Linked DNA regions of Homo sapiens: region 1 is linked to region 2. The links come from fine-mapping of genetic effects on gene expression. A gene starts in region 2. The other region holds a variant in brackets. All regions are shown on one strand. Distances are from middle to middle. Region 1 holds the start of LOC105378329 (a long non-coding RNA gene). Region 2 holds the start of REEP3 (receptor accessory protein 3).

Evidence for each region. PIP is the estimated chance that this variant, and not a neighbour inherited with it, causes the effect.
Region 1: its variant is the best candidate, but not a certain one, in a credible set for the expression of REEP3 in monocytes (CEDAR, PIP 0.87).

What each region holds. Positions count from the first base shown.
Region 1 is chr10:63,619,896-63,625,282 of GRCh38, forward strand. REEP3 (receptor accessory protein 3) reads left to right here. Exons shown (of 8, transcript NM_001001330.3): 8 at 918-5,233. The coding sequence ends at 974. It overlaps LOC105378329 (a long non-coding RNA gene), which reads right to left and starts at 5,218. Exons shown (of 4, transcript XR_001747467.3): 1 at 4,924-5,218. The variant C/CTTTTT (reference allele first, on the strand shown) is at 2,810.
Region 2 is chr10:63,518,523-63,523,909 of GRCh38, forward strand. REEP3 (receptor accessory protein 3) reads left to right here and starts at 2,879. Exons shown (of 8, transcript NM_001001330.3): 1 at 2,879-3,055. The coding sequence starts at 3,024. It also overlaps a transcript of JMJD1C not described here. RefSeq lists an enhancer at 2,075-2,124 and a silencer at 2,515-3,564.

The DNA of each region.
Region 1 (5,387 bases), 100 kb after region 2:
GGAATGGTAGAACAGCAGTTTGATTTTTTTTTTTTTTTTTTTTTTTTTTAGTTTTTGGGGATAGAGCTTTTTTGCTTTGTCAACCAAATTGGAGTGCAGTGTGGCGTAATCACAGTTCACTCAAACTCCTGGGCTCAAGCAGTCCTCCCACCTCAATCTCCCAAGTAGCTGGAACTACAGGCACATGCCACCGCACCTGGCTAATTTTTTCATTTTTTGTAGAGACAGGGTTTCACCATGTTGCCCAGGCTGGTCTTGAACACCTGGCCTCAAGCAATCCTCTCGCCTCCGCCTCTCGAAGTGCTGGGATTCCAGGCGTGAGCCACCTCACCTGGCCAGCAGTTTATATTTAAAATTCTTTATTCAGATCAATGTATCAGGATATCAGGAAATTTTGAAAATGGTAAACTCTTAATCTTCTGCTATACGTAGAAAATGGCATTCTCATTTAGCAAATCACATAGTTCAAATACCCAGTCCCAGCCCTATGCATAAACAAAGAAAGCAATGAATAAAATTAACCACACAGTTTTGCTTTCAACTAATGCTACATGAAGATTAAATAGTAAACAGTTAACCATAATAACATATTGTCTTTATACCCAGAAAGCAGTGGAGGACTGTGAATGGCCTCTGATCATTATAATCAATGTTCATTGACATTGTACTAAGCAAAACATAAATAATAGGATTAATGTTTTTATGTTATTAGTAATAATCTGTAACATATATCTAAATATTACCAACTACATTTTTTATGAGTTTATAAGTAGTGCTGTCTTATATACATTTATTAAGAGAATTCATTCTTTATATCAAAAAGGTAAAAAAATTACTATGATTATGAACTATTAAATCTGATGTAATTTTTTAAAGTAATCATCTAATTCTTAATAATAAAACATTTCTCTCTTCAGGTGCGGTACGGGTCACTAAAATACAAAGTGAAGAAACGACCACAAGTGTATTTTTAGTCATCTACACGTCAAATATCCCAAGACAGATTATGCTAAATACATCGACTTCATCTTCTAACATGATATATTCAGGATTTACACATTAAAATGATTATTTAAATTGTGGCAGTGATGGGGTTTACTTTCATGAATTTAAATTGTTTTTATTTCTGTAACAATTGCTTCCAAATATTGACTACTAAAGGCAGTTCTGCAAGATGTACTAAATATGTATATTAGAAATTATAGAAAATCATGTTGTCCGTTTTCAAATTCATCAACAGCCTAGAGTGCCTGAGATATAAGATGAAACACAAATCCACAGTATACTTGAAAGGAGCCTTTTTACGGTTCAGGATAAATCAGCCTTTGTGATGTACTGTGTTTACCTCCTTTTGTGTTGTATCTGGTAATTAAATAGGCCTCAGATTCAGCAGTGACATAACAAGGACATAATGTAAGATAATAAAGTAGGTTTTATATATTCTTTAAATTTTTACTTATATAATACTTTCTAGTTTTTCCACCATCAGCTGAAAGTTTTTGAAACAAATATTTGAAAACCAGGTATCCACACATAGCACTTTTATTCCTGACTAGTTTTGCACACTTGAAAATTGTTTACTTATTTTACAACTGTTTTACTGATGCTATCTTTATTGTTTTTGCCGTATTCTGACATGTCAAATCTATGCCTTGAATTATATCATCTCTTTTCCTGTGGGTTTCATTTGTTAAATTCATTGGATTTTAATAATATAAAAGTATAGCTAATTGTTCAGTTTTAACTATTTTTAATTATCTTCTTAACAAATAAGAAGTTGCTTTAAACATTAACCAATTTTCTATATTTAGCTATACAGAGTAATTGAACTTAACATGTTTTTGTCAACACCAATTACATTTTCAGCTTTTAAAAATGGTAGCTTTTGTGAAATAGAATCAGTGACCAGTATAGCACTTAGATCCCTTCTAACTCATATAATTTTTCTCAGCCAATCCATTCACAAGCTTGGCATTGACATGTGCTGCTAGTTTATAAACTGGCATTGACGAAAATCATTTGAATCTCTTCTGGCTGAGATAATTTGCCAATGCAAAATACAGTTGTCATTAATCCTGCACATTAGAAATTATTAGAAACATATTACTTTTTAACTTTAAATCTCAAAGAGATTTTGAGTTATTGAATTCTTAAGGCTTTCTTAGCTTGAACTGATAACTATGCATTATGAACCCTAAGTCAATATATTTTTGGTGGTTTTAGTGATCAGTAATCAAATTTGTACTTATTATGCTTGTTCAGGTAATTTACTTGACTGTTCTATTTGTTTGTCCAAAAGATAAAATGATGAGAGAGATTCGAGAGGTCTTTGATCTGTCTCCCTTTTAAGAAATGAAGCCAGCTGGTAATGTATATTCAGGACTTCCTCAGAGTATTGGCCAAGAACATAATGTTTACACAGGAGTACCTTGGTATAATGCATACATTGTCTCATGATACTAGTCATAAAATATTTTATGGATTATTTCACATTCTTCATATATAACAAGTAAAATTAATTCAGTTTTCTTCTCCCAACGTTTAATTCTGAATAACTCTATCTACTTTACCCTAATTTTTAGCCTCTTAATTTCTGGAAGGACTCTAATTTCTATTCCAAATTTCTATGAATTCTAATTGTAAATTATCGGAACAGAGTTTTATTTATATGACCTGGTACTAGACTTCTTAATATAACTGTTACACTGTCCTTGTCTTTCCTACTCAAAGACAGTATCATCTGAAGTTGCCTAATAAGGTCATGTGAGTCAAGAACTTTATCTGTGGGAGCTGATTTGCACCATTTTAC[C/CTTTTT]TTTTTTTTTTTTTTTTTTTTGAGACGGAGTCTTGCTCTGTCACCAGGCTGGAGTGCAGTGGCGCGATCTCGGCTCACTACAACCTCTGCCTCCCGGGTTCGAGCGATTCTCCTGCCTCGGCCTCCCGAGTAACTGGGTCTACAGGCCCGTGCTACCACGCCCAGCTAATTTTTGTCTTTTTAGTAGAGACAGGGTTTAACCATGTTGCCCAGGATGGTCTCCATCTCTTGACCTCGTGATCCGCCCGCCTCGGCCTCCCAAACTTCTGGGATTACAGGCGTGAGCCACCGCACCCAGCCACCATTTTATCTCTCTAAAGTCTGGTCCCAGTATTAAACCTATTCTTTAGTAAACTCATATTACTGTTCTAAATTGAAGAAATTATTTATTACTCTGTACTTCTAGACTCAAAATTCTTTATCAAAGATAGTCTCAAAGAGGTAGTACAAGTCCTGTTTAACTGCACTTTTTCACATTCACAGTGCTTCCTCTGATATCTTTCCTTACATCATTATACACTGTTGATATCATTTTACTCTTCTTTCTCTTCTACATTTCTTAAATTTTGGTTCTTTTCCTGTACATGTGTTTTAGCGGGGCCCTTTTCTTTGAACTTTGTCTAATTAGCCTGTACATTTTTGTTTCTTTTAAGGTAGAACAGATCTTTTTTTGTTTCTCCTTTTAAGTCTACTGGTTTTAAAAGAGGTAAATGTATCCATAGACCACAGTGCCTTGCTTTTTCCTCTGCCAGCACATGGAGCACGGGATTAGATGCACAAACCTATTTAGGGAACTATTTTGGTAGATGTTTGAGTTTATACAGAAATTGCAGCTGGTATTTTATTTTGCTGTACATTTACTCAACTTGTCCATTAGTATTTAACTATTTCCAGAGTTTGTTTAGGAGTAAGAATTGACCCATTCGTTAGTTTACCATATTTTTTCCTGGTATAAAAAGGAGCCAGAAATAAGCCTTATTGCTAAATAATTAATTATGTAAGCCCACCTAGGTCCTGCATAAGATCCCCCTCACATACTTCACAATATATATGTGTGTGTGTGTGTGTGTGTGTGTGTGTGTGTGTGTGTGTGTATTTGGCTAAAAAATTATACTGCCAAAATTACTGATTATAAATACTTGACTACACTGATTGATGGGACAAAATGATTAAAGTATTTTCAGGGATCTTATTCCATATGTCACCACCAAAGATTTCTACAGTGTTATAAAGTATATAAATATTCCAAATTTCTGTGGTTAAATATTTTTTTCTTTTTTTTCCTTTTTTAGAATAACACAGTCTGTGCTTTCCAAAAATGCTTGAACTTTTATGTTGTTAAGAAATATATAATGATATCTTACATTAAGCATGAGTCTAATTTGTATTAATTGGGATGGACTAAATTTTCATTTGATTATCAGGAAAATTAAGGAGTTATATATTTAAAAGCAATTTTCTGTGTTTTCTTCTTTGTAAGTTGACTCATTTGTGAAGCAATTAGGCAAATTTTGAGAAGATCATTGTTATTGTGGTTTGCAGTATATATTTCTTAGTAAATATCACTTAAGATTAAATTTTTCAGAAAGAAAATTATAGCTTTTTTCCCAAAATATTTTTAAGATTTAATCTTTTTGTAGTATGCTACAGATTTAATTATATTAACTCTTTTTTAAGACATTGACCATGACTTAACATTTTGCCTTCTAACACCTTTTAAATCTATGTACTTTAATAGTTAAGAGAAAATAAGTTTGCAGATTTTTAATAATCTGTTTGTAAAAGGCTATCTCTAAGCCTAGTATGTGGGTAATTTTACAGGTGTGTTTTTTGATAACTTTAATATAAAATAAACTCATTTTATTTGTGGCAATTCGCGTTTCTTTTTTTATGCCAGAGTACATATGTTGGATTCCATGAATTGGTATTACTTATTATTATGTGTTGATTAAATATATGCACACACTTAGGATTACAGATCACAGAGCAAATTATGAAAATCATAAACATTCTGGTATGGTCATCCATAGGATTATGAAAAAGAAATACTGAATTGTTAAATTTGGATGTTAGAAAGGAAAGATAGGAAAAACAATGAGTACAGAAATCCTCACCATCAATTTGGATGGGTTAGCTGTCTCAGGCATAAAATGTAACACAAAATTCAGATTTATGTATCCTGGAAATGTTCTGGGGTTCCATCTGTTTTAAAGTTAGACGTCTGTCTGCCTCACATTTAAGCTTTAGAGAGAAATCCTATGTTTTAAGAAGTTTCTTTGTGTTACTTCATTATGACACATAATGCGTGTTAAGGTCTTTCTAGATAGCATTTTAAATGGAATTATTTTCATTTTCATTATGAGGTATATACTTGTAATGATCTAAAGAGGTTAGAAATATAAATAAAAATTCAAAAGAACACAATATATGAACGGCATTTTTTTTCAGTGTTTTAGTCTCCCTTTAAATCGTTCACTGTTCTGAAAAAAGAGATTTACAAAACAAACATCATGTCAGAGGCTGATGAATTGTTCCCTGGGAAAACATTCTACCCCTTTACCTACTCATCAGTATTTTA
Region 2 (5,387 bases):
TTTCCAAAACTGTAAACAATTCTTGGTCAAGTTGTGAACAAAACAATCTTCCTTCAATTCACATAACCGTTGCATGTGGAAACAGACTCAGTTAAAATTCAGTCTCAGTTAAAATCATGATGCAAGATGGAGGTTCCAGGCTTTGATAATTACAAATACTACATGAAAGTCAGGCAGATATTCTTAAATCATGCAAGACATGGGGACACTTTGTTCAGGACTGTCCCACACCTCTCTAGCCTTCACTCAACAAATGCAAGTTGTTAGCTCCAATCATTACAACAATCTAAAAAATGCCTTCCAGTTTCCCCTTGGAGGGCAACACCAAGCTGGACCCACCGCCTTAAACACAGTTCCGCTATCTATCCCAGTATAATGTAAACAAGCTTGGGAAGCATGAATTAGATCTCCAGTTCTGTTACCAATGACCTATGTGATCACCCGCCAGTTGAGTTAACTTCTCTAAACCTCACTTTCCATGGTACCAAAAGGGAATAAACGCTATATGGCTTTTTAAGTTGTCAGAATGACTCAATGACACGTGTATAGCACATAGTAGGTGGTTTCCAACCCATGGCCTATTGAGATGTGAAAAAAGGCACTGTTCCAGGTAAATAGAAAGAAAGCAGCAAAAAGTAATCTAAATGTGGAAGAGGCAGAAGATATAATAAGCATACAAAATGAAACTTAACGCACAGCAGTCTAGGGACATTTCAGAGAGCAGCCAGCCATCCTACCTAGGTTGCCTTCAGCAACCCCTGAAGGCATTAATGTACTAGGATTAGCTGAAATAATTAATATTCACAATGATGACCTCCAAAGTAAAAAGGCAAGAAAGACATTTTTAAGAGACTTCCAATGTACGTGGCTGAAATTTTTTAAATCTGATGCCTAAAGAGTGACTGTATTTCACAAACATTATTCAAATTTTTATTGGACGTTTACCCTATCTGAGGCTAGATAGTTGGAAAACACAAAGAAATCTAATACACCATGTCTGTTCTCAAACATTTTACCATTCAGTACATTAGACATGGTAGAGGCAGAATGACACAGATAAGAAATAGAAATTCAAGTAATAAATTATGAGAGCACAGACAAAATTAGGAATAATTGTCCCTGAGGAAAACCAAGGATGTCTTCATGGCACAGGCCACTGAAAAATGAGAGTTCTGATAGGTACAGAATGGGGAGCAAAGTGTTAAGGGAAAAACGAAATCTGGGCAAAAGCACTGAGCATGAAAATACAGGTTGGCTGAAAGAAGAGAGGTAGGGAACGGGTACATTAGGAGTTGGGGGTGAAAGTAGTAAAAGTAAAGGCTGTAAAGCTATTTCAGGACCTTTCATGAAGGGATCTGAATGATATTCAAATTCATTTGAGTTTTATTGAACAAGAGAGTTCGCCAAAAAACTGGTGCTTATGCAGCACACCTGATCCTCAAATAATGCTGAATAATGGCCAAAAATAAAAGATTCAGAGTTAAATGCAAATTATTACTCAAATTCCTGAAATAAAAAGTCTTGACATGAATTAATAAGCGAAAAGAACCTAACCCAAGAGTAGAAAGTAGCTTCTGAGCTTGTTTCTTAAATAATGAAATATTACCCAATTTATTGACTGAGAACTGAAAATAATTTAGGATAATCTGTTGTGTCCTTTGATTGTCTTCCATGCAAGTCAGAGTATTTCCTAAACATATTATTTAGCAGTGCCTCATATCACCCTTGAAAGGCAAGAGACAGACTACAGTATTATTACCCCCTTTTTATCACAGGGAAACTGAGGAACAAGAAGACAAAATTACAGTATGGTCACAAAAGCCATCATATTTTCTAGGACTTTAATTAAAGGCTCCAAGCCTACATTTCATCTTTTATTCTTCGCACCATCTGAATACTAGAATTATCTTTTACTATCGTCTTAACTGGAAAAAATAAAAATATCTAAACTTTAACATCATTTTCTCAATTTGGTACTGTCACAAAAAAAAAAAAAAAACAGTTTTAAAAGTCTGCCCTTGAAATGATATTTGCAAGAACAGCAAGGTGTAAGCAGTAACCCAACCTCCAAAAAATACAGTTGTAAATCTTACAGCTGTAATATAGTTGTAAATCTTAAGACAGGTCAGGAATCCTAGACCCAGCCTTTACTTTGAACATCTGGCAGGCCTCAGGGAAATAATGGAGATTCGTGTCTGTAAACAGTCTTTGCAGATGCTCTGATGAAAAGGTGCCCTAAGAGGCCCAGAACAGTGGTATCACTGCACCCACTACTGCAAACATGAAATCCTCCTCTGTCCCTCCCTGCATTGCACCACGAGACTCGTGGCACACACGGAGGCCTGTGCAAGAACCTCTCGACGATTCCTTTAAAATGTGGTAATATAAGGACGCCTTTGGTGCTGGGCCTCCGTAAACACTGAGGATACCGGATGTGGCCAGGCACACCTCAAAGTCTTGGCTCTCCAAAACCAGGGCCTGGTCGAGAGTTTTATTGGACACCGAGTTCCTGCGAATATCTCACTTTTCACACAGGCACTGCCAATCCCTACCCTCCAGTACCCTTCCTCAGCCTCCTGCCCCACTCTCGCCGCGAGTGTGGGCGTCCCAAAGAGCTAAGGAGGGTAAGGTTGGTTAGAGCGCAGGGGCCAAGGCCGCGGCAGCGAGGCCGTCCAGCGCGGGCTAGGATCCCGCCAGCCCAGCCCTGGAGCCCGGCCGCCTGGCCCCAGCCCTGGCCCGGGCCAACGCGCCGCCGCCACCGCCTATCAGCGGAGCGCAGGGGCGGGGTGCTGTCCGGACTAGGCTGCCGGGCCGGCGGGCGGGGGCGGGCGGGGACGGGCGGGGGACCGACCTCTGCGCAGCCCAGGCCGCCGCGCGCACACACCGGGCCCGGCTCCTGAGGGCGCCAGCGCGGCCCCGGGGAGCGCGAGGAGCCGGCGAAGCGCGCGGCCTGCCGTTGGCGGCCTGGTCCGCAGCGCCCTGCGCCCACCCGCCCCGGACGTGGGGCCCAAGCCCCCGTGAAGATGGTGTCCTGGATGATCTCCAGAGCCGTGGTGTAAGTGCCTCTCACTGCGCCCTGCAGCCGGCGCGAGGCCCAGGGGAGCTGTGGGAAGGGGAAGGAGCCGAGAGGAAAGGGAAGGCCTGGGCCTGGGCGGGGACGGGGTAGCCCGGCCTCGGGCCTGCCGAGGGTCTGGGGGAGCCCTCGGCTTCCTCACCTTGGTCCACGTCGCTGCGGAGCTCCCTGCGACGGCCGAGGGCCTAGCTGCGGCGACTGCGGCTGCGACGGCGGCGGCGGCTGTGGCGCTGCTCGGCTGCGTGCGGTGCGGCGCGGCGCCCCTGCTCCGGCGGCGCTGGGTGGGCAGGCGCTCAGGGCAGGCGGCGCGCGCTCCCCGCTCCTGCTCCCCGCGCAGCGCGGCACCGCCCTGCGGGCCCGGGAGCGGCGCGCCTCGCAGCTGCTCCCTGCGCAGGCTCCGCAGACGCCGAGCGCGGGAGGCTCCGCGATCCTCCCGAGGATGCGACGGCAGTGCCGAGCCTTTGTATCCCGCGGCTGATGCGTTGCGGTGTCTCTCTTGGCGGCTGATTGCCATTCGGTCACGTGTGGTAGGAGGAGAGATTTGTCTAAAAACCGGAGACCGCTCCCAGCCCAGGATCCCTGGGAAGGGTCCTAGTTTTCCCAAGATTTGCAGCTTACCGAGAAAGGTGACACCGGCTGCTCGCCCAGATCCCCGAATTCGGCCCTGTCTCGGCGGAAATATTTGCTAAGTGATTGAAAGGCTGCAGGTGCCTGTTGCCTTTGTTCAAATTATGGGTTCATTTCATTGTTCTCCTACCAACAAGTGCTACAGGTCTGTAAGAAAAAGAAATTCCTTGAGTTGGTGGTGTTAATCGTGTAAATGTATTTGAATACAGTTTAAACTGATTTTCTCTCATCTCCATTTTACCCCTCTCCCCGATTAAAAAAAAAGTCACCAAGTAAACAATGACGTAGTTACAGCTAGGGCCTATGAATTCATTATTCACCTCTGTAGTAGTGTTATCTCAGAAGGTTTCATAAAGGTATATGAAAAAATGTTTATGTGAGGGGGCAGGCTTCTCTGATAAGCTTTAGAATTTAGGAAAAATAACATTACCAGACTTTTTGTTAAAAGGAGCTAGATTTTCTGAGTTTGGGGTTTATTTTGTTTGGAAGTGAATTACTAGCCCTATTTAATCAGATTTGCAGCACAGCATTCAAAATTTTTCATTTGATTAAATCGCAAAGTTTCTAGTTTTAAAGCCTCAGAGCTTCCTGTGTTCCCCTGTACGAAACTAAAAATCAAGATATAAACAAAAGGATACCACAGATGCCTTCAGATTGTTTTTCAGCCTTTTCCTGGCCTCTCTTTTGAGTCTGTCATTTATCTAATTCAGGCATACCTTTCTTGACCTAGTAGATGTCTATCAACTGTTGTGTCCACACCTAGAAAATCAAGTGCCCTATTAAGAAGCTGTACTTTACAAAAAAAAAAAAAAAAGCCTCTGGATTTCTTTGACCAGTTCTTCAGCTGACAGAAAATTGTGAAGCACTTTTAGACTTTTGTTTTTCATAATTGCCAATGAATATGAATGTCTGTTCTAGGTGCTACCTATAACACAAAGGTCAGTAACACGTAGTTGATCATGGGAATTGACAGTTTGGGTGCACAGATATCTGCAGTACAGGTCCAAATGTCAACTCTTGTAAAAGTTACACCCACTCTAATACCCAGTGTTGGACAAGGAAGGGATATCTGGTTGGAGAATCAGAAAAGGCAAGGGAGATTACGTTTCAGATGGGCCTTAAAGAATAGGCCCAGTAGAGTGGCTCACACCTGTAATCCTAGCACTTTGGGAGGCCAAGGAGGGAAGATTGTTTGATCACAAGAGTTAGAGACCAGCCTGGGCAACATAGCGAGACCTTGTCTCCACAAAAAAAGAAAAATTTAATTAGCTAGTCACAGTAGCTCACACCTGTAATCCCAGCTACTCAGGGACTGAGGTAGGAGGATCGCTCAAATTCAGGAGGTCAAGGCTGCAGTGAGCCGTGATCGTGCCACTGCACTCCAGCCTGGGCCACAGAGTGAGACTGTGCCTCAGAAAAAAAACAAAAAAGAATGGACAGAATCTAGGCAGCCAAAGATGAAAAAGGAAAGGATTCCAGATATAGGGACCGGCGTGAGCCAAAGCCCAGAGGAGGAAAAGCCCAGATTAGTTACAGTGGGCGTGAGGGACTCGGGTGGGGAAAAAGCAAGCTGGAAAGGTAGCCTGGGGCCTGTTTTCAAGAAAGAAGGGGTAAATGTTATAAGGCAGCAACAGCTTTGCTTTGGAAGATTCTCTGCCCTTCTGTGAAATGATTGGCAATGGAGACC